2 linked regions of the Homo sapiens genome follow. The protein of the gene in region 2 purifies or fractionates together with the protein of the main gene of each other region. This does not show direct contact. Each region holds a gene or a part of one and is shown on either strand. Other genes may lie near its edges.

What was found.
Region 1: the proteins of GALNT5 (region 2) and CBLIF purify together in Homo sapiens (affinity purification with mass spectrometry; 2 studies listed by BioGRID and IntAct, with this or other methods). This does not show direct contact.

The regions. Positions count from the first base shown.
Region 1 is NC_000011.10:59,833,052-59,845,183, reverse strand, and holds part of CBLIF (cobalamin binding intrinsic factor precursor), read left to right. Parts: intron 1-1,128; coding exon 1,129-1,305; intron 1,306-2,042; coding exon 2,043-2,156; intron 2,157-2,600; coding exon 2,601-2,741; intron 2,742-3,859; coding exon 3,860-4,041; intron 4,042-7,832; coding exon 7,833-8,010; intron 8,011-9,174; coding exon 9,175-9,376; intron 9,377-12,132. UniProt on the Homo sapiens protein: Promotes absorption of the essential vitamin cobalamin (Cbl) in the ileum. After interaction with CUBN, the CBLIF-cobalamin complex is internalized via receptor-mediated endocytosis.
Region 2 is NC_000002.12:157,306,549-157,318,680, forward strand, and holds the end of GALNT5 (polypeptide N-acetylgalactosaminyltransferase 5), read left to right. Parts: intron 1-2,018; coding exon 2,019-2,180; intron 2,181-4,611; coding exon of another isoform or gene 4,612-4,659; coding exon 4,660-4,800; 3' UTR 4,801-11,943; downstream 11,944-12,132.

The sequences.
Region 1 (12,132 bases), on a different chromosome or scaffold from region 2:
GTTTTTTATTAAGAGAGATGGGGCCAGGTGCAGTGGCTCACACCTGTAATCCCAGCACTTTGGGAGACTGAAGCAGGAGGATTGCTTGAGCCCAAGAGTTCAAGACCAGCCTGGGCAACATGGTGAGACTCCATCTCTACAAAAAAAATAAATAAATAAAAATAAAAAATTAGCTGGGCGCAGTGGCATGCACCTGTGGTCCCAGCTACTCAGAAAGCTGAGGTAGGAGAATCGCTTGAGCCCAGGAGGTCGAGGCTGCAGTGAGCTATAATCACACCACTGCACTCCAGCCTAGATGACACAGCAGCACCCTGTCTCAAAAAATCAATAAATAAAAATAATAGAGATGGAAGTACTACTGCAGGAATAATGGTTGATGGTACAAAGACAGACACTCAGTGGCTATTGTGACCAGACACCACTACATACTAGTGAGAGATTTTGGTACTCACTGAGGATAAATTATATCCCAAATCTTTAATACTCTTCATGAAAGAGTAAGGAAAAAAATGAATGCAAGGAAATCAGTGATTTCCAGGAAAGTGATAGAAACTATGAGAAATGTCATGAGCCATATTGCTTGAAGTTACTAAATTTAAAAATCACTTTCTTAAGGATATGGATTATTTGAGAAGATGTAGAAACTAATTGTCCTCAAAAGTAAAATCTCACCATTTTCTCCATTTCTCTTTAGTGACTTAGGACACTAATGCTAATCAAGTGTTCTCCTAAAAGGCATCAAAGATGGCCAGGCGAGGTGGCTCACGCCTGTAATCCCAGCACTTTGGGAGGCCAAGAAGGGTGGATTACCTGAGGTCAGAAATTCGAGACTACCCTGGCCAACATGGTGAAACCCCATCTCTACTAAAAATACAAAAATTAGCCTGGCGTGGTGGTGCACACCTGTAATCCCAGCTACTCAGGAAGCTGAGGCAGGAGAATCACTTGAACCTGGGAGGCAGAGTTTGCAGTGAGCCGAGATCGTGCCATTGCACTCTAGCCTGGGCAACAAGAGTAACACTGTCTCAAAAAAAAAAGAAAGAAAGAAAAAGCATCAAAGACACGGGGATAATGTTTTTGAGAAGGAATGAGGGTTAGAAGGTGAGTAAATGGCTTTCCTCTTCTCAGCCGTTCCCTCAGCACAGGAGCCCTTGGTCAATGGAATACAAGTACTCATGGAGAACTCGGTGACTTCATCAGCCTACCCAAACCCCAGCATCCTGATTGCCATGAATCTGGCCGGAGCCTACAACTTGAAGGCCCAGAAGCTCCTGACTTACCAGCTCATGTCCAGCGACAACAACGGTGAGACATCTGAGCCGCTCGCACTCTCCCTGAATCTCACACATCACATACCACCTCCAGATTCCAACTCAGCGTCCTTCCCACCCCAATGCTGCCTCTGACTGTAAATAAACTACCCAAACACCTTTCCTTACATACCTGGAAGGTACCTGGAAAGAAACATGTGTGAAGTCAGAGCATTCATGGAGGAGGTCAGTAAAGCAGGGAGAGCTCTGGACTAGACGTCGAAAGAGCAGCCTTCTGGTTCTGGCTCTGCCACGTCATAACTCTGGGATCTGAGACAAGTCACTGGATACTGCTCAGCCTCACCTTGCAGATGATTGTAGTAACAATAACCCTACTACTACTAATAGCAATGATAATAATAATAAAATCTCTGTTCTGCCTATCTCCCAGGAGCTGCCTGCAGGCTCAAGTTAGATAAAGTTTAAATTATTTTGCAACTGTAAATTTCTGTATATAAATCTATATGAGTATTTTGCTGCTTTTCTAATCAAATACCAGGGATTCTCAAATACCAAATACTAGAGTCATCAAGTTACACAGAGGCCACTAGATTAAATATTCCCTTACGTATTCTTCCATATTTTTTTCTTTGGAAAGACAGATCAAAGAACTGCTCATATTATTAAAAAGTCAAAATGCTCTAGATAAAAAGCAGAGAACTCATCACTGGCTCCTGGAGAGCTGTCCCCTGAGGATGTCTCTGTCTAACCGTTGTGTTCTCTTCTCTGCAGATCTAACCATTGGGCAGCTCGGCCTCACCATCATGGCCCTCACCTCCTCCTGCCGAGACCCTGGGGATAAAGTATCCATTCTACAAAGACAAATGGAGAACTGGGCACCTTCCAGTAAGACCTGACTGGAAGGGAGAAAAGAGTCAGGCATATGGTTTTACCTAAGAATTTTAAACCCAGAAAGGAAAAGGGTGGGGGTGGAGAGAAAGGCAAGTTAGGGAAGAGACAATGTATCCTTCACTCTGGTCCTTCTGATAATCCAGACCAGAAAGATTCATTTCCAATCCAAAATGAACTAGAAAAGGTCATGATCCCAAGGACACAAGCTTGTCCAGCCATCACCTGTCTAAAGACACAGAGTCATCCCTTTTATTCTTTGCAGATGCCTGATGACATTCTTTTGAAAAACACTGAAGTTGCTCTTTGCCTATGCTGTGTCTCTCTTTGGGGGCAGGTTTTCTAGCAATTTCCTTTTCAAAGGCTTGGCTTTTCCTTCTTTGCAAATGTCCTCATCGTGGTGACTGTGAGTCTGATGAAGGTTCTCTATCCCCTTCGGAGGCCCCAACGCTGAAGCATCAGCCTTCTATGGGCCCAGTCTAGCGATCTTGGCACTGTGCCAGAAGAACTCTGAGGCGACCTTGCCGATAGCCGTCCGCTTTGCCAAGACCCTGCTGGCCAACTCCTCTCCCTTCAATGTAGGTGAGTAGGTCACCACTACCCCGAGCTGGGAACATCAGAGGCATCGTGAACTGAATGGTGGAGCTGGCAGGGAAGTGACAAAGGAGAGCGTCCCATGGAGGAGGAGCTAAGGATGTGAACGTGCCTGTGGATGGGAGATATTTACCAGATGTTTGTTGGGCAGGTGAATTGAGGAGTAAGTGAAGGAAGAGGGGGTAGTATTATGTAGAAACAAGGACAATTGATAATACTTGATATGTCTGGCAGCTACAGAATCTCCGCTGGGAACAATAGTAATGCCATTCAAGTCAGAAGTTCTTCCCAAATTAAATATGAATGTCTTGCTTCAGTTCTCCTCTGCATCCTCTCTTTAATCACTACTGATGCTCCCACACTCCATTCTTTTCGATGCTTCTCCTCATTACATCCAAATATCCTCTCTCCATTAAACAGCTACTCTCGGAACCCTAACTCGTGATATTTCCCTTCATGGCAACTCGGGGACCACCTTGCGTCTTTGTTCTGCAAGCATATGGCTGCTTGTGAATAGAAGCTTTTCCCTCTACAACATCATGTCCTCCTTCTGTCCCCTTCTATGGATAATGATCCTTCTCTGTGGGGGCCACTGTCACAGCCCGCATTCATGATCACCTTTTCTCCTCTGCCAACTCTCTAAGCAATAGTATTATCTCAGGTTTTCACTCCCTTATGCATGCCCCATCAGCAACCTCTCTTGTTTCAGTTTCTGTCAGACAAACAGGTGAACCACTGCTCTAGGATCCTCCCTGGGGGTTAAGAACAGACTGGTCTCCCTTTCACATCTGGGACCTCACACATTTCTGGGGCATCTCTGCCTCCAAAAATTTGGACTTATTTACTTCTGGTTGTCAGTAACACTAGCACCCTTAACGAAGTTATGCAACTTTCAAATGGAGATTTGGCCCTGCTGCTTACTTAATTTTTCTGAGCCTCCATTTTTTGTCTCTTAAATGGAGATGATTACAGGTACTGTTTCACAGGTTGTTCTGAGGAGCAAATAAAATCATGGAGCCAGAATATAATAAGCACACAATAAATGTTAGCTGTTCATATTGCTGTGATGGTGACTATGGTGATCTTATACCCTCTGTCATTCACAGACACAGGAGCAATGGCAACCTTGGCTCTGACCTGTATGTACAACAAGATCCCTGTAGGTTCAGAGGAAGGTTACAGATCCCTGTTTGGTCAGGTACTAAAGGATATTGTGGAGAAAATCAGCATGAAGATCAAAGATAATGGCATCATTGGAGACATCTACAGTACTGGCCTCGCCATGCAGGTAAACACGTGCTGGATGCTCTTGGTTGGGTTCCTGCCAATAAGCCTGGATTGCAGAATCAAGAGGCCAGGCTTCTACTAACATCTCTGTGAAAGTCCAGCTAGTATGACCTGAGATATATTCTTTGTGGTGCCTGGGCCTCAGTTTCTCTACTGGTAAAATGCAGGTAAGTGTTAATTCCTCCCTACCTCCTATGTAAAGTGTGAAAACAAATCTATATGAACTTGTTTCTCTTTCTTGGGAAAAAAAATGAAACAAATAAATCAAGAAATATATTAATTTATTATTAATAATGATCAGTTTATTTGTAATAGTTACAGACTATTACAATTTTGATGTATAAATAATAAGAATATTAAAGCAGGCCCTCTAAAAATATACAATTTTCTGATGCAATCTTACCAGCCAAGTGTTCTTTTTCAGTGTTTTACCTTGATCTAAAAATAGCAAGTTTATACTCAAAATGATTAAGGAAAATAACCTAAAGTTGACCCAGCCTCACAAAAACCCATAGTAAATGGTAAAGCAGATCTATCTGTCAGCCAAGTCCATATTCAATTCTGTGCTTTCACAGCATGCATTCCCAGGCTTGGATTCTGTAAGATGTGTTTGGTATTCATAGTTCCAAATCCAACAACCCACCCTACCCTAGTTGATTAGGGCAGCAGCCTCCATAGAAGACAGATGCACCAATGGTGGTGGGCAGAAATAACCAACTAGAATCAGAAACTAGCAACCATCTGTGGCTGAATCCTCTAATCCCAACTAAGAAGTTTGAGCTCCAGTGTCTCAAAATGTCCTATGGGGATTAATAGGACCAGGGACTCTTCAACTCAGAAAGCCCACTAAAGGGAGAATCATGGAATGGTGATGCCAGCCCTAAACCTAACATAGTTGCGGACTATTAGAAAGAAATTGTCTCCTGGGGAAAACAATGGAGACTAGTATTGAGATTTCATACATTAAAAATTAGAAAAGGATATAAGCAGCCTAAGAATTGGTTCATGTTAAACATAAGAGCAAAAAAAAAAAAATTTCCACTTCAATGGACCACATATAGAAGTGACTAATAAAAATAGAGTTCATTTCTATGTCACAGTCAAGGAGACTTTGTCATAGAACAAAACCCTGTTTTTTCCATGGCTGAATTTTACAAGAACATTCCCAGTGCTCTGGTCTAGAAGCTTTTTGGAAAGAAAAAGGCAGTCTGGAAGAGATATAAAAGATGGTTTGGGGATTTTTTTTTTTTATGTGTGACTCTCTAAAAATAACCTTGCTTCAATTTATCACCAGACAGTGAAGTGTTTACTTTTGCTAACTTGGTTTGTGAATTCTGTTTGGATTTTATCACCTGCCAAGTACACTTTGATAAGCTGTACCTGGGAATTAGAGCTTTTCCTATCAAAAGGCAGGACCCTGTCTACATCCAAATACCACAGGCCATGTGGATTTCTTGTCAGAATACATAATCTCTCCCTACCCTTTTTACTGCCTCTATCTGGAACTTATTTAGGCATCCTGAAATCTGGAATCAATAGGTGTCTAATATATAATATTTTCCTAATCTAAAATATTCTGATATAGAAAATCAAAGGGCTCTGGAACTATCACAATTTAGGTTTGACTCCCACACCTGCCACCATCTCAGACAAATATTGAATTTCCCCAGATTTTATTTTCCCCATAATAATAAGGTTGCAATTAGGTTAAATAAAATGTGGTATGCAAAAAAATGCATGCATAATGTAATGCTTAACAATTGTTCAAGATCTGTCTCAGCAGAGCAGTGATGCTAGTAAAGTTCCTTTTCAGCCTTTGTTCACCTTCTTCCAAGATGTCAGTACACTTCCAGTGGCCCAGGCCACACTCTTCCCTACCCAAAGACGCTCATGAGGCATTTCCTCTGTTCCAGAACTTCTCATCTTTCTTCCATGAATATCCTATTGCTTTCAAGTTTCCTCTGATAGGCGCTTATCTTGAAAAGGGATCTGATAGGCCAGGCGTGATGGCTCACACCTGTAATCCCAGCACTTTGGGAGGACGAGGCGGGCAGATCACTTGGGGTCAGGAGTTCAAGACCAGCCTGGCCAATATGGTGAAACCCCATCTCTACTAAAAATACAAAAATTAGCCTGGTGTGCTGGCAGGCACCTATAATCCCAGCTGCTCAGGAGGCTGAGGCAGGAGAATCACTTGAACCCGGGAGACGGAGGTTGCAGTGAGCCAAGATTGCACCAATGCACTCCAGCCTGGGCATCACAGCGAGACTCCATCTCAAAAAAAAAAAAAAAAAAGAAAGAAAGAAAAGAAAAAGAGAACTGATAAACTTCTTGATGGAAAGTTATTAATGACGTCTAACCACTTAATGTGTTATCCTCTCTAGAGTGTTGGCATTGGTGATGTGTAATCCCAATGAATATACCTTGCTTAGTGAAATTTGGGAGGTGCATATGACAAGTGGACAAGATATTGTTGCTGAGGAGCACCCACCTGATGGCCCTTAAAGCAACTGCCTTGTAAAGTGGCCTCTGTCCAGAGCCATGCTTCATAGATGCTGAGGTTCAGTGATGGTTGTCCCTGTCACAACTGCCCAGTTGTGCATACTGACCCTAGCTGAGACAGCCGTTTCTGACTCCTCTCTCTCTCTTCTCCCATTTCCTATTCCAAGCTTCAGGTGAACCAGTCATTAACAATCTCAGCCTATTAACATGCTCTGGTGGCCATAATCGCACTGTAAAGGAAGGGAGGTGGTAATGACAGCTTCCACATCACACATCACACATCACGAAATGCTTTTATACATTAGCCCCTTGGAACCGCAAATGACTCCCCCAACAATAGACAGAAGTTATTATTTCTATTTTATTCATGCGATAGATAACGCAGCAAAATAGGTGAATGGCTGAATGGCTTGGTGTATTACTCAAGACTCATTTTGCAAGTAACAGAAACCCAAATCCTTTTAGCTCAAGAAAAAAATGAGGATTTACTATTCACATACACTGGGAAGTCTAGGGCTGAATTAGGTGGTTTCAGGAATAACCAGAATAAAGGGCTCAAATCATGATATCAGGAGCCACTCTTTTTTCATCGTCCAGCCCTGATTTTCCTCATTCTTTCCTGCTGCAGGGCTTCTTCAAAGTGGCTGAGAAAGATGGTCACTAGCAGCTTACCGTTTATTTGCATGGTCCCAGTTGAATAACCTTAGCAGGAAAAAAAAATCTTTGGGTGTCCCAATGTCTGTATGTCGGGGAATGATTCTGATTAGTACATGTGTCCACCAATCACTGTCATCAAGGGGATGGTGACCACCATCAGCCCAGTCCAGGTCATGAGTCCATCCTGGGCCAGGGTTGTGGAGCCTCTGAGAGTCCTGACACAAGCACAAAGTGAGGGAAAAGTCCATCAAAGAGGGCACATGGCAATATGAAACAAGGGGTCTACTCCGTTTATGTGGCTAGACTGTCCTAGGCTAAAGCTCCCTCTGGAGCCCAGCTCTCACCCTCACTCTACATTCAAGAGTCGTTCGTAAATATGACTGCCTAATAGTGTTCCCTGGATCTGATCATTGCACAGTTCTGTGTCTGCTGTCTGACAGACACTGTGCTAAGTGGTGGGGACATAGCATTGAAGACAAATGTTTTCCAAACCTTACATAGCATTGGCTTTGCATTCTGGGTGACTACGTGATCACCATGATTAGTGATCAAGTTTATCTCTTAAGACATGTAAGAGCCAACTCTCAGCTATGCCTAATTACTCTTTCTCTCTCTTTCTGTCTTCCTTCCCAGGCTCTCTCTGTAACACCTGAGCCATCTAAAAAGGAATGGAACTGCAAGAAGACTACGGATATGATACTCAATGAGATTAAGCAGGGGAAATTCCACAACCCCATGTCCATTGCTCAAATCCTCCCTTCCCTGAAAGGCAAGACATACCTAGATGTGCCCCAGGTCACTTGTAGTCCTGGTAAGACATCCACCTCTCCTTATGTCATAAAGCAGCAACTTATGCCAGAAATGACATGTGGATCAATGTTAAGTGGCATATAGGCTTGTAATGTCCATTATTCCCATGTGGGCAGAGTACATCTGACTCCCAGTCCTTAAGAGTGTGTGCTAGCACACAGACATACCTTCCTGCACTCAGAACTCAGCCCCATATCTACTTCATTCAGCATATATTTACCTAGCTCCTACTATGTGCAAAGCATTTTGTGGGATACTAGAGGTAGAAGAAGCTCCATGGTCCCAGCTATCAAACAACATATAGCTTCATTTATTCATTTCACAAATGTACCATCAAACACTATGCATATCTTATCATATCTGCCTTTCACAAAGTCAGAAGACAGATGTGTAAACAAAAACTACAATATTTGGGACAATCGAGTAAGTATTAAATAGAAGTTAAAGCCACACACAGTGCAAATGCCAAAAAGAAAAATAGTGACCAGTTGTTGATTTTGTTTGGGAGGCTTCAGAGAAGAACAGAATTCATATTTAAATCGAGCCTTAACGATCTAAATATGAAAGCTCGATGCACGCAATATATCAATGAGATGGAGTGGAAACCTAGCATGCCACTTTTTAATTAAAAATATCTTTATTTTATCCAATTATGCATATAATTGAAAGACACTAAAAATTCAAACATTACAGAAATATGCATTTGGAAAGTGGAGGTCTTGCATAAAAACTTATTACTCCAGAGATTACTAGTGTTTGGTATGGATTCCTCAAACTCTTTTTTTTTAATAAAATGCTAACACAAAGCATCATTCCTCTTGCATTGCATGAACTTCCTAAGACAAGAAGCAATTAATAAGTTTCTCGTCTATCTCAATGCAGAATGTGGAGACCAAAATCAAGCAAACTGATCCCAATCCTACCAAAAACTACCACATTCACTCAACCCCTTAGGCTGCTTCCCAGTGATGTCCCAACCTTAACAAGGTGGCCATGGAGTTTTTGCCGGAATTCTATGCTAGTTGTCCAAGTACTTTGTTAAATGGTATGAAACTCACTACTTTCTCAAAATGTCTTCTGGGGTAAGTTGCCAATAACAGAGATTTTGCACCTATGATACAAACCCCATAATCTTTGACAAATGTGGCCTCTTTGCCCTTCACAGATCATGAGGTACAACCAACTCTACCCAGCAACCCTGGCCCTGGCCCCACCTCTGCATCTAACATCACTGTCATATACACCATAAATAACCAGCTGAGGGGGGTTGAGCTGCTCTTCAACGAGACCATCAATGTTAGTGTGAAAAGTGGGTCAGTGTTACTTGTTGTCCTAGAGGAAGCACAGCGCAAAAATCCTATGTTCAAGTGAGTATTACAAATGTCATTCATCATTCTCTCAAGGCCTGATCTGAATTCCCATTTTTTATCCATCCTGTTTTCCTAATTTTTTTCCTTTTGATAACAGATTTTTATTTAATAGCGCTTGAGCAGCTTTCAATCTAATAAATAGGTAAGGCTCTCATGAAAACTTAAATCATATAAGTCAACATATGATGAAGTTTTAAAAACAAAAATTCAGAGGAGATTCGAAAGTCCATTGCAGAGTAGAACAGGCAAAAGAGACTTTGTAGCTTTGAAACACAAAGAATAGGTACTATTTAGGAAGATGTGGGAAGAGGTAAGTCCAGAAAAAGAAATGGCCAGAACAGGCCGGGCGTAGTGGCTCATGCCTGTAATCCCAACACTTTGGGAGGCCCACGCCTGTAATCCCAGCACTTTGGGAGGCTGAGGCATGCGGATCATCTTAGCTCAGGAGTTTCACCAACATGGTGAAACCCCGTCTCTACTAAAAACACAAAATTAGCCAGGCGTGGTGGCACGTGCCTGTAATCCCATCTACTCGGGAGGCTGAGGCAGGAGAATCGCTTGAACCTGGGAGACGGAGGTTGCGGTGAGCCGAGATCATGCCATTGCACCCCAGCCTGGGCAACAAGAGCAAAACTTCATCTCAAAAAAAAAAAAAAAGGAAAAGAAATGGCCAGAACAAAGCATTTGCGATAAGACTGAGCAAGGAATTTGGGGCCAATGAATAGGCCAGGTGGACATACCAGGTTGGGTGACAGTGTAAAAGTCTTGAAATACCAGGTTCAGGAGACTGAACTTCATTTTGCAAGTTTTTGAGTAAGAAAATCCACTTGGTAAAATGTTGCTTAGGTCGTGAGAATAGGAGACAAGGCTAAAACATAGGACATGACTCCAATAATGGAGGTGTGAAGTGACGATGACTTCCTCTGGGATACACGGACCCACACCAAGGCTCTGTGAGTGATGGGACATAGAGGTCAAGAGAAAGAAGCTTCAAAACTATTGATTAAAGGGTCAAGAAGAAAGAATATCTTTCAAAGAAAAGGATTAAATTCCTTAGATATGTTTAATGGTAGGCATTTGAAATAGGAACATTAGAAGGCTTTTGGCGGTATAGTCCAGGCACAGTGGCTCATGCCTGTAATTACAGCACTTTGGAAGCTGAGGCGGGTGGATCAGTTGAGGGTAGGAGTTCGAGACTAGCCTGGCCAACATGGCGAAACCTCATCTCTACTAAAAGTACAAAAATTAGCCAGGCGTGGTGGTGCGTGCCTGTGGTCCCAGCTACCCAGGAGGTTGAGACGGGAAGATTGCTTGAGCCTGGGAGGTGGAGGTTGCAGTGAGCCAAGATCGTGCCCACTGCTCTCCAGCCTGGGAGACAGAGTGAGACTCTGTCTCAAAAAAAAAAAAAACAAAAAAAAGGAAGGAAAGAAGGAATTGAGAGAGAGAAAGAAAGAGAAAGAAAGAAAAAGGAAGGAAGGAAGGAAGGAAGGAAGAAAGAAAGAAAGAAAGAAAGAAAGAAAGAAAGAAAGAAAGAAAGAAAGAAAGAAAGAAAGAAAGAAAGAAAAAGAAAGAAAGAAAGAAACAGAAAGGCAGGCTTTTGGAGGCATAGAGGAAGTACTAGGAAAAGAGGTCAGGACATGCAAAAAATAAATTGGACAGTCATCTCTTAGAGGTGATGACCTAAGTCAAGAACCCATGCAGTAGATAGCAGATACTTGCACCCAATAAAACCATAAGACATATTTAGTTATTCTCATTTTACAGATAGAACCCTTAGGCCCAAAGAAGTTAGTAACATTCCTAAGATCACATAACATGTAACTAATAGAGTTGAGAGTGGAACCCAGGTTGGACTGAATCTGATGCTCATGTTCTTTCCATGCCCCTCTCAAGGTAGGGGAAAATACAGAAATAAATCACAGAGGAGAAAATTAACTTTTAGGGCATGTTTATAGTTTGCAAAAAGAGGAAGCAGTAAAGAAACATGGAGAAGTCTAAGCTATAGGAGGAGAGGAGGAAAAATGCCAAGTCATGGAAAGGAAAAAAGCATCTTTTCTTTTTCAAAGAAAAGATGATCCAAATTCTTCAGGAAGATATCAAGAAGGAATACTGACAAAGGCTAAGGAATTGACAACTGAGTGATACCACGTGGGTATCTATTCCACCCGGTTCTGTTGAGCACATTGTGTCTGCTGCTTACTGCACGACTCCATAACTTCCCTAACTTCCATAGACAGGTCAGGATAAAAATTGCACTTCAAAACTATTTAATTTTTTTTTTTTTTTTGAGACAGAGTTTTGCTCTTGTCACCCAGGCTGGAATGCAATGGCGCGATCTCGGCTCACTGCAACCCCCACCTCCCGGGTTCAAGTGATTCTCCTACCTCAGCCTCCTGAGTAGCTGGGATTATAGGCACCCGCCACGATGCCCTGCTAATTTTTGTATTTTCAGTAGAGATGGGGTTTCAGCATGTTGGCCAGGCTGGTCTTGAACTCCAGACCTCAGGTGATCCACCCACCTCAGCCTCCCAAAGTGCTGGGATTACTGGCGTGAGCCACTGCGTCTGGCCCAAAAATATTTAATTTTAAAACCCTCTGAATATACCGTACTTTACTTCTCTGAAGTTAGCTTTAATTTTGCCTAATTTTTCTTTTTCTGATTATAAATGTATTAAATACATAGAGCAGAAATTTTGAGGGAAAAAGCAAAAAGAAGAAAAATCATCTATAGTCCACACACAATATCACAATTG
Region 2 (12,132 bases):
AGTTCTGTGTTTGTGGAAACAGTTATTGGTTTGAGTGGCAAATAGGACTCAGAGGAAAATGGATTCATGAATAGAAATCAGTTCCCAAAATTGCAGATTGTTCTTTGGTACAGAGATTATTTTGCAATGGTAATCTAGGCTTGTTAAGTCTTACATCTTTGCTTTGACTTCAAGATACTGTTTATATTTTTTGGTGCATCCCATCTCTACCTCTTAACTCAGAGCTACTACTAGAAGAAAAGGTATCTCTGTTGCTATATTTAGCTGTGAATTGTAAACCTGAAGCCAAGGCCACTCTTTTTTAATTAGGAAAGAAAGGAGTCAAAGGGAAGTGAAGAAGTGTTAAAACTCATTAAAAGAAATAAATTTCACTTACTAACAAAGAGGAAATAAAGTCATAAATTGTAAAAACAAAACCACAATTATTTCACATTATATGAAAGGAAAGTATTAAATAATGCATTTTTTTTTTTTTAGGAATCATCATAGCAGGGAGTTTTTGTGCCAGAGTAACCAGCATTTTATCTGAAAACCCAAATTCTATTCTTGATGACCATTGAGTCTTTCTCAATTGGATGCTGAGAGGCAAAAGTATAAATTATGCAGGCTTCGACTTCCACAAAGCCCCAGCTCCCTTTTAGTCTTTGTTGCTCATTTTTAGCTTCTGCCTCTTGTGGTTTGCTTGGGTAATAAAAAGTAAAGAAATGTGGAGGAAGTTAACTCATTTTCAGCAGAATTAATGAGGCTTAATACCAAGCCAGTGACTACAACATTCATCCAAAAAGGCTCAGAAAGAATAAGACCCTTAGATTGAATCATCAAGCTCTATCCCTTACCTTACCTAAAAAGTTTCCTTAGTTATTAACCTTTAAAGCAGTTGAAACGTATTTTTTCAAGGTAATATCTAGCTTCTCTTAGTAGCACATAACTTCCTTATATTATGCCATACTTCCATGCTTCCTACATGTTAATGTTCACGTGAATCACCTGGGGAGTTTGTTACACTGCAGATTCTGAATCAGTAGGTCGGTGATGTGGCTGAGACTCCGCACTTCTAAGTAGCTCCCAGCTGATGCGGATGTTGGTCCAAGGACCACCCTTCCAATGGCAAGGTCCAACACAATGACTTTGATCTAACCTGATAATCAAAGTTAAACTTCACTTACAATACAAATGATTCATTAGGTAAAGGCATTTAGATAGATTTTACCAGAAGCCTATTTTTTTCAAATATGTTTATATTAGTACAAAACGATAAATTTCCCACAGACCCAGAGCATTAGAGTAAATTGACCGGGTAGACAATAGTAGGTTGTAAACAACTGAAGAAAAATGTTTCAGAATTAAAAACATGGTTTCATTACCTGAATTGGTACTTATTTTAGACACTGGCAATTTCTCCAAGAGCAGTTTCTATGAACTGGGGGATGCCAACCTGGTAGCAACCTGATGATTCCTCATGCTAGTAGCAAAGAAGGACTTCCACCTTTCCTACAATCGGACAAAGCCTTTATGATGGTTTTATACAAGGAAGCATAAAATCTCCACCCAAGAAATTTAGGGCTATGACTGGTATCTCCCTGTAGCCACCCGTGGCTTAGAACCTTAATCATGTGGTAGACTGAACATTCCAATTCTTTAAGCACCAGGCTTGTCGGGATTCAGAACACTGAAATGACATCCATATGCAGACAGAATTAATTGCACTGAATAATTTTTATTATTGTAACTAACATTTATTGAAGGCTTATTGTGTGCTAAACACTTGACAGTCATTACCCCAACCCTCTGAGATAGATACAATCGCTATCCAACTTAAAAATAATTAGAAAAATAAGATTAGACAGGGTAAATAATATGCCCATACTATCAGAATTACAAATGATAATACCAGGACTTGAATATAAAATGTCAGATCATAGTTCCTATATTCTTAACTGTTGCTAACAAAAATGTTTGACAAAGCCCCTGCCTGTGTTTGCTGCCTGAAGTGACCTCTTTATTCATTTCCCCCACAGCTTCAACAATTTAATTACACCTGGTTAAGACTTATTAAATGTGGAGAATGGTGTATAGCCCCCATCCCTGATAAAGGAGCCGTAAGGCTGCACCCTTGTGATAACAGAAACAAAGGGCTAAAATGGCTGCATAAATCAACATCAGTCTTTCATCCAGAACTGGTAAGCAAAAGATTGGTACCTCTTCTTTACCACAAATTTGACTTTTGATCAAATAGGACATAAAATTCTCATTGTCACCTTCCTCAGTCAGAAGTTTTGTGTGTTTGTGACCATGGGATTATGTAAAAGTTCATTCACAGAGATGCATGGATATCTTTCGAAAGTTGACAAGTCCTTTTTTTTTTATTTTTCAAAATTTATTTCAAATGAGTTATTTTAAATAGAAATCACCAAGTTCTTCTAGTTGCATTGCTATCATTTGCTTCAGTCAATCAACAACACCGAAAGTCAGGCTTAAAGGCTAGAACTGGTCCCCACTGGTCATCAGTAATGCTTATAAGGAGAGGATATGGGCAACACAGGAAGCAGCATGTCTCCTACAAGTCCTGCACTTTAGAGTGAATCTGGTTCCTCATTCTGCCCCCTTTCCATAAGAGACTCTTCCCATCCCCTGTGGTACCCAGAAACCGGGGCTTCTAAGGGTCTGCTGGAGCCAACTCTCACCAGCTCGCTGGAGCCACTTGTGCACACCCTTGCCAGCTTTGCATTTAATCATACCACATTGGTAGCTGGAAACTGGCCATATTGGGAGTATTTATACCACAGAAATTGGAAGATGTTACTGGATCAGGGATACTTTTCTGAAGGTCCAGTTGTTCCATTTACCAGAACATTCCTGGTCTACTGTATTCATTCTCAAAGTCCTCTCCATTTGTCCCAATTACATTTTAACAGAATACGGAGTCATAAGCCTTGGTGTAGGAGCTTGGGATTGGCGAGAATAGTCTCAGAATTGCCTTCTTAAATTTTCTACAATCTCTCCAGCAGGTAGCCACCAAATCTACTGTCTACAGTAAATATTTGGGTATTTGGAGACTCTCAGTTTGTCCTGGGCTATCCCCAAAGTAAGCACCTTTGCTTCCTTTAGGTGCCTCCGTTCCTTTTAACAACACAATGACTATTCTTTTCTCAACATTTTTCTTCCTGCTCAGAGCCAAAACTGGGGCCTGAGTAATGTATTCTCCAACATTTCTCCCATTAGATCTTCTCTGTTGTATTTCAATTCTTTCTGAACAGTTTTTTCTCTTTAGTAATAATGGTTATTATTGAGTTATTCAGAAAGATTAGGAATTATTAGCATATATGCCACTAATTTTATTTTGCATAGTGTTAGGAAATCCATAAACATGCAGTGTAGTGAATAACTTACATCTTACCTTCTCCCTGTGCCAAAGTCAGGAGGGAGGGAAGGAGAAAGGGGGGGATGTGGTAAGGAGAGAGAGAGAGAGTGAGAGAGAGAGAATATGAATAAGAACGAGAACTAAAACACATTCTTCATCTCCAGAATTGAATCTTGGGAAAGAGTTCAAGCATAGCAGTTTCTCTTAAGCGGTAAGCTGATTTGGTAAAGGAGGTAATTTAGTTAAGATAGCAAAAATTAGAAAGCCTTTTCCCTACCTTGTTTGTACCTATGACTTTGGAACATTTTACACAGCTGCCTTCTGTCTTGGGTTTCCCTTTTGATGTTACCAAATGTCCTGGAGATGAATAGCTTGGTGATCAGCTTTCTTCTTTTTTCAGTTTTTCAGTAGTTTTCATGCTATTGCTACTAGGTCTCCCATTATATGTAAGTCTTAAACAACAAGAGAAGTATAAAATGAGACTTCCTTACAAATCCTTGACAATACTCAAGCATCGTATTTCCAAAATCCTGCAAGGGTGACAATACTTTTGTAGCAGCAATCTTTAAAATAAATTATTATGAAAGTCACCCCTGTTTGATAACTTTTTAAAGTTTAAAAACAACATGTGTAATTAAGATTGTCTTTGTCATAGTCATACGTAATTAAGAAAATTTATAGATGAAAAAATATATAAGCCATTAGTAAGGTCTATCTAATTTATCTACCATTTCTAGGATATTCACTAAATATTAAGCAATAATATAACTTTCTTTAATGCTGTTGACTTTTTCCTAATCTGGATTTTGGACATCAGTTATTATGAATTGTCAGAGATTATGGTAAGGAGCTCATAAATAAAATACATCACTTCCAGAATTTTGTAATCCAAACTCACAAAGACACCTACTTTAAAAATTAATTAACTTTTTGTTACGGTATGTATTCTTTCTTTACCATCAATGAAGTAGTTATCATCTATCAAATCCAATAAATGTCATCTGTAATGTTTTCTCTTTAAAGAGTATAGTTCTCAGCCATATCATCAAGAAATTTTTCTTTTGCCTCCTGAGGACTTAAAAGTCTTATAGCTTGGTGGAGGATGATTACTTAGTCTGAGACAGAGACAAATTTAATACTTTTCAAAGTCTGTGTTTATGTTAATAATTTAGTTCAGAAGAATTCTTAAAAATCAAAAATATAACTGCCTGTCCATTTTTTTAATTGATTTTCATTTCTTCATATTGCAGTTATCAAATTCAGCCTGTGGCTCATTCCCAGCTCTTCTTTCTCTCCAGGTGAATCACATTGTTTTTGAAAACAATCAGCAATTATTATGCTTGGAAGGAAATTTTTCTCAAAAGATCCTGAAAGTAGCTGCCTGTGACCCAGTGAAGCCATATCAAAAGTGGAAATTTGAAAAATATTATGAAGCCTGAAGTGTAACTGATGTTTTTATATAGTAAACCCATTAAATACTGTGAAAATAACACTGAACTTGGAAACTATATTTCTCAGCGGTAGTTTAAATTTTCAATTTTAATAACATTTGAATGGAAGATTTTTTATAAATCACAATATTTGGAATACCAAAAGATGACTCAGGAAAACAGTCCAACATTGGACTGAAGTCCTTCTTCGGAACTGGGTGGCCTTTGAATTGCCTGCTTTCCACCCTATGCTAGACCTCATCATGCAAATTTCCCTGTGAAAGCTAACAGGTAACTGGAAATGAAGACAGAAGGACTTGAGAAAGCATGAGGATATTCCCAATGACTATGTTTGGTAATAATCAGCTCTTCTGGCCCACAAGTAGGAATGATCAATGAGAACTTAACTTAGTCCTTTATTTGGGGATTTTTTCATCAAACAAAAATTTCTTGAGTTCTTATGGCTAGAAGACCTCAGATGCCCACAGCTGTCACGTTTGTGAAATCCCTCCAGACTACATGCATGCTTACCTAACAGTTTGAAATAGTATTGATCTACTGCTGGTAACCCTGCTTGATGGCAGCATTTTGATCTAAATTACATAATGGTTTTTCCCAATCTGAATCAGTGGAAAAAAATTTAAGTGAGGAAGAAGAGGCCTTCAAATGCTTATTTAATTCTAGGTATGAACACTATTTCAGTTCATTTTGTGCTTTTAAAACTACAGTTTTAAAGATTTATGATACCAATAACTTCCTAGATTCATGTGGATTTTTTTTAAGGCAATGAAAAAAGGCTGGATTATAACACACTGTAGTAATCAAAAATGCATTTAAGCATTGAATGCACTCTAGTGCAGGGCCAAGTAAGAGGAGTTGAAATGAGTAAAGCAGAAATAGAGCTGCTGAAAGTTTCTTTTATATAAAAATAATAAAATACTACTTTAGATATAGTAGCATTCACAGGGATGAAATATGCGAAAAATGGGTTCTAAAATATTTCAAAGGGAAAATGAAGTGAAGGAAACATCATGAAAGGGGAAAGGAATGAGGTAAACAAGTCTTAGGAAGAGAGTTAAGAAAAAATTCCGCTGGACTTGGCCAAAGAAAGAAGGGGATCTAGTATCTCTATGAAGGAAAAAAGAGTAAAGCCCTCAGTGTGAACCCAGTGAGAACACTGACAAATTTGGGAAAAGTTAAATACTGATTTCATCCAAATAAAGCCTCTAATCTTAAGCATACCAATACTTTGGCATACCAGAAGACACCTTAGAAATCAGGATAGCCTTTGCATTCATTTTGGTAAGAAAACTGATGCTGAGAGGATAAATTACCTAAAAATCTTAAAACCCAGGCAAGTTAGTCAAAGAATCAAGATTAGAATTCAGGTTTCCAGAGACAGGGCTCATTCTAATGCCTCAGGTCACTGGCCCGAACAAATCTGCTTCACAGAATTCCTTAGAAAGAGATACACAATTCTTTGCTGGGATTGGGTCCCTGGAGGACAACCATACTATATTCTTGTTAATATGTTTTTTCTTTTTTTAAATTTAAACTTTTGTTCAGTTGAGATGATTGTGAAACTAGGTATCTTTCATTCTGACTCCTAGTTTAACATTTAATTTTGACTCCCAATGAGTTACGTAAAAGCAAAACTATAACTAAGAATGGGAAAAAGAACTATTTCTGCACATTTGTAACATATTTAAGATGTTTTCTTCATATAATTGAAAACTGCAGATGAGTAAGAGAATGACTAGGAAATGAGATACAGTTATATGACACATAATGATGTTTTAGTCAACAATGAACCACATATTTGACATTGGTCCCAAAAGATTATATTAATAATATGGTATCTTTAGTGTGCTTTTCTATGTTTAGACACACAAATACTCACCATGATGTTACAATAGCCTACAGTGTTCAATACAGTAACATGCACAAGTTTGTAACCTAGGAGCAACAGGGATTCCATATAGCCTAGGTGTGTAGTAGGCTACCTACACCATCTAGGTTTGTGTAAGTACACTCTGATATTCACACAATGATGAAATTGCCTAATGACACATTTCTCAGAATGTATTTGTGTTATTAAATGATGCATGACTCTAATTCTTTTCAAAACAGAGCCATATGGGGCAAGGGGGATGGGGGGACGCAAGTCAGTTGTCAAAAGACTAATTGAGTTACTGACAAACTGAACATGCTAGGTGCCTCATGTAATTCTTCATGTAACTAAAAAATGTTGAGAGGTTTTTTTCCCCCGGGTATATAGGCTCTCTTTTTATCCGAAAATAGTTTCCACAAAGAAGTCAACTCTGTTCTGAAAAAAAATGAATTGCATTTTGAATACACTTATCTTTGGGTATATCAACTAAAGGAAGTTGGATTTTTTTCCTTAACAGAAACTTCTGCAGTCCTCTCAGTTCACATCCTTTCTGACTTTACCCTGACAAACTTATTATATAAAGCTATATTTAAATCTATATTGTCAATATAACAAAGGATTGTTTTTGAACATCACAAATTTGTTCTTGGATAGAATTTTATACATTGCTTTTCATCATATATTTGCTCAGTTACTCTAAGAAGCAAGGAACTGATCACTAGTTGGGAATCTATATGGGCCTAAACTTGAGTGTATTGATTTATTATTACATCTACTACCAACATTTTCTTAAGCATAGCCTTCTAAATTTTTTCAGGAGATTAGAATAAAGGTATACATGCTACTCGGTCTTCTGGTAATTCTAGTGATAAACCTTTGGATGAGACAGGTCCTAATCAGCACTGAATTCTTCAATAGGAGGCTGTGTTACAGGAGCTACAGATTTTTCCCTGGATTAGCTTAGGTCATTGCCTTTACTTTAAAAAAAAAAAAAAAAAGTCTATGCATCTTGTTACCTTGAATACAAGGGTGGTCTTGATAATATTTGACAGCACTAACCAACTTACCAAGCCATCTAAGTGCTTCTGAGACTTTTCAGTTTGCACAATTTCTTTCTCCTTTTCAACAGTTACCCAGCGCTTCTGCCCTACTCTCTTGTAAGCTGACACAGTTGTTGTTGGTACAATCTTGTTCTATCACCAGCATCAAATTTGCTTAATACTGCTTGTTGACATCCCCTCAGCTGTCATTCACAGCAAACCACCATGTGCCATGATCACAATGTATTATTAGCTTCGCCACACTAATTTGGAAACATTCTTTTAGATATTAAAACACCTTACTTCTAGTATTAGTTTGGGACTGCAGAGGGGCAAAGATACCATTTACAGTATATAGGAGTCCAATATTCCCAACCAACCTTGATTTCATGAATGGCTTGTAATTATTTCTAGCAGGCACTCATGCAATAGAATAAGATTGAAACATGCCAGAGAGTACCATCTTTCTTTGTTTTAACATCTCTGATTGAATTCCTATATTCAGAATACAAGAAAAAAAATTTACCAACCAGGCGCAGTGGCTCACACCTGTAATCCTAGCACTTTAGGAGGCCAAGGTGGGTGGATCATGAGGTCAGGAGTTCAAGACCAGCCTGGGCAACATGGTGAAACCCCGTCTCTACTAAAAATACAAAAATTAGCTGGGCATGGTGGTGGGCGCCTGTAATCCCAGCTACCTGGGAGGCTGAAGCAGGAGAATTGCTTGTACCCGGGAGGTGGAGGTTGCAGTGAGCTGAAATTGCGCCACTGCACTCCAGCCTAGACAACAGAGCAAGACTCTATCTCAAAAAATAATAATAATAATTTTTACCTCAGAAGAAAGCCCCAAAATCTTGGATTAAAACAAAAAAATGACATTGGGTGATGGGAAAAAAGAAAGGAACTAATTATCATTGAGTGTGTGTAGGTACTATTTGTGTAGGTGCTATATGTGTCCCATCTCACTGATGGGTACAACTCATCAAATGACTCTCATTCTCCCTGTTATATGAACAAGAAGGATAACTCCCACATACAGATGAGGAATTTGGTAAATTGCCCAAGGTCATCCCACAAGTAAGAGATAAAACCCAGTTTCCATTTTATCTGGCTCAAAAAAAATTTCTCTCACTATACCATGCTGCTATATAATTAATTTTCTTCTTTACAAAGGGCTGTCATCTCAGGTGGGTGCATTTAAAAGTTTCTTGGTCTCAGATTACTGATGCCACAGTATTGAGATGAGATTGAATTAAACCCCTTTGGCCTCTTTTGGATGTTGTATAAACAGAAAAAAGAAGCATGGTCTCTCTCTCTCTGTGGTAACCAATTGATGTGTAGGTATAAACATGGCTACCCCCACATGTTTTGCTGTGATCTATCTCTTTGACTTCATGCAGAACCTATTCTTTTTCATCTCCTGGACCAAATGTGAAAGAAAGAAGTGGACATGTGGAGGATTCTTTCTCTGTGAATAATATTGAAAAAGCTCCATTTTCTGGGGAAATACCCATGGTTCATTGTCTGATGCCAAGAAAGAATTCAGGACACAGACACACATGAGGAGTGGGTTTAGGAGTGGAAAGTTTAATAGATAAAGAAGAGAGTGAGAAAGCTTCCTCATGTTGAGAAAGACAGTTGCTCAAGAGAGGGTTTTCTGGGTTTGGGGCAAGATTTGATTGATTTCATACAGAGGCTTGAGGAGGCGGTGATTGATATACATAGGGCCCGGGGATTGGTTTAACCAGGTATACTACTTACATAGCCGGTGAAAAGACTGGCCCTCCCACCCTAACCTTTTATTATGCAAATGCATCTTCTACCTGGCTGTCACCATGACATTTGCACACGTGGCTTCACTTCACCAGTGCCATGTCACCCACACACCTGGTGACAAGGAAAAGGGAGCAGGAATCACCATATTGAATGTGCCTGGCTTCCAGGTACAGCTGCTAGCTTTACATATGGGAGCCTCTAGCTTGCATATCTATACTTGCAACTTGACTTTTCAGGCTGCTTTTTGTTAGAAAATAAGTGGCTTGGGGGCTGCTTTTTATTAAAGGAAAAATCCACCGAGAACTATTTTACCCTTTCTAATGGCCTAAAATAAATTTTTAATGACTCCTGTATTAATATTACCAACCCTTGATCCCTCCAACCTTTAATCAAAGCTAGCAGATTGCTCATCTTGAACAGAAATAAAAAGTTAAAAAGTTGGAGTCCTTTAAAACACAAACCATGACTTTTTATTCCTACTCATTGTGTAGGTTGTCACTACTGTGCTTTTGCAACAACTTTTGCATGGGTTACTCAATAGTTGCTACAAGACAAAATGCCTTACAATTAGAAAAAAAAATTAACCAGAGATATTGTACAAAATATTTATTTTTTGACAGTTTTGAATAAGCCATATAAAGTATTATATATCCCTAATGAAGCTTAATGGATAGTATTCCAGGTGTTGGTGGTGTCTGTATCTCAAAGAAAGAAAAAAATAACATCACACTAAACAGATTTAATGCCTCTGTTTTCAACCTAATGGAACAATAGTTATCATTTCAATTAGAGTCGCTTTGCAAGTTTATGTGAATCTTTGCTTTGTAAAAACACATACAAAACACAAGGGAAAATTCTCATTTTCCAGCAAATACAGCAACTTCTAATATGCTGTTTCTAATAATGAGTCACCATCAAATAAGTAATAAATATTTTTTTCAAAAACAAGAGCTTTCTGTTTTATTATTGATTGACAGATATTTACCAGTTTAAGGATATTGGTCATAAGCATCTATATAATAAACCCTTTATATTAGATGTTAAATTAAAATTTTTCATAGCATGAATAGATTTTTAAGTGACCACTCAAAAACATAGCAATTTTTGTAAATATACTGTATGTGTGTGTATATATATATATATATATATATATTTTTTTTTTTGATGCTTTGATCTGGAAGAAAGAAATATCAAGAGTTTCTATTCACAACATAAAGAAAATAAAATGTTTTTAGATATTTTTAACTCTTTCAGGTGTATAGCTTTGTCTGCATCTGGCCTTCTGCACAAAAGTATCTCAAGTGAACTTACACTCTGGATACCATTTTCCAAACTTGAAGGAGTAATCAAGTTCTTAATTATCAGGGTGCTTGTTATTTAGTTGAAGATTACACACATGTCTTCTGCTTCAAACAACTACCCCAAATTTGCTAGTTTTATACATATTAGCTTAAAAACAAGAGAAGCCAAAGATTAAGTAAGTGAATTGTGTTAAAGATTGCCTGAAAACATTTGCTAAGGGGAGAATAAAACTAAAACTGTGGAGTATAAAGGATGTTGGAATTAAACATTTTTAAGTACTTTTTCTTTTGCATCTGATCGACTGAAGTTATTATAAAGAAGGAATCAAGTATGTAACTTTAAATTCTAGGTAAACATCCAAATTACTTTCTAAATTCATTTCCAAAATTCTCCTGTGCTGGCAGTTAGCTACTAGAGATCATCATTTGATTTTGTAGTTTGCCATGTTCTGAGTGAGTTCAGCTGCTTACTACTACCCATGTCATTGTGTTTGTATTGATTGCCTGGCTCAGTTATCTCATGTTCTTCATGAACTATATACACATTTTCATTGTCTTTAAACAATACTGAGTTTTGAAGTTAAGTAGAATATTGTAGGGGTTATCAGAAACCCATATTCATTGTGGTATGTTTCTGTCTGATACTTTAATATTGGTAAATATAGTTTTTGACATTGCATTTTACAATCCTATTGTTTTTTAGAGTGATGAAAGTTCAAGTTTTAAGAGAAGTGGTTGCCTTTCTCATACTGTCAAACATATTTCTTCTTTATTATACTCTGGTGCTTTATCCTTCTCCATAATTCTCTATTATTACTTATTTTAAATGTTTTCCCTATCACATTGAAAAACTTAAATGTCCGTTCTCCATTTGAAAATATGCCAAAAGTATGATCCCATGTAAATATGCAGAAACGATTGCTATGAAAATGTCAGCATAGTTTAAATGTATTACTCTGATGATTACAGAGATTTCTTCAAGTTGTTCGTGTTAAGATGCATCTTAAACATGATCTCAGTTCCTTAAAAAATGATAAAAATTTTTCATGTATATTACATATCTACCTACCAGAAATCCTTTTTACAATTTTATATACAATCATTTTAAGACCTTTTTGAAATAAATAATGCAAATGAACTAAAATAAAGTGTTCTCTTGATTTCTGAAGAGGTATTCATTAATTATCATAGTAGCTGCTGATATACAAGGATTCTTTCTAAAGTTTAAAAGGCAGCTAAACAAAATAAAGTCTAGAGACCAGAAATAAAGACACAAACTTTTATTGAGAGTAAGTCAGACACAGCAGTTCTTTATTTAAATTGTGGATAGTTT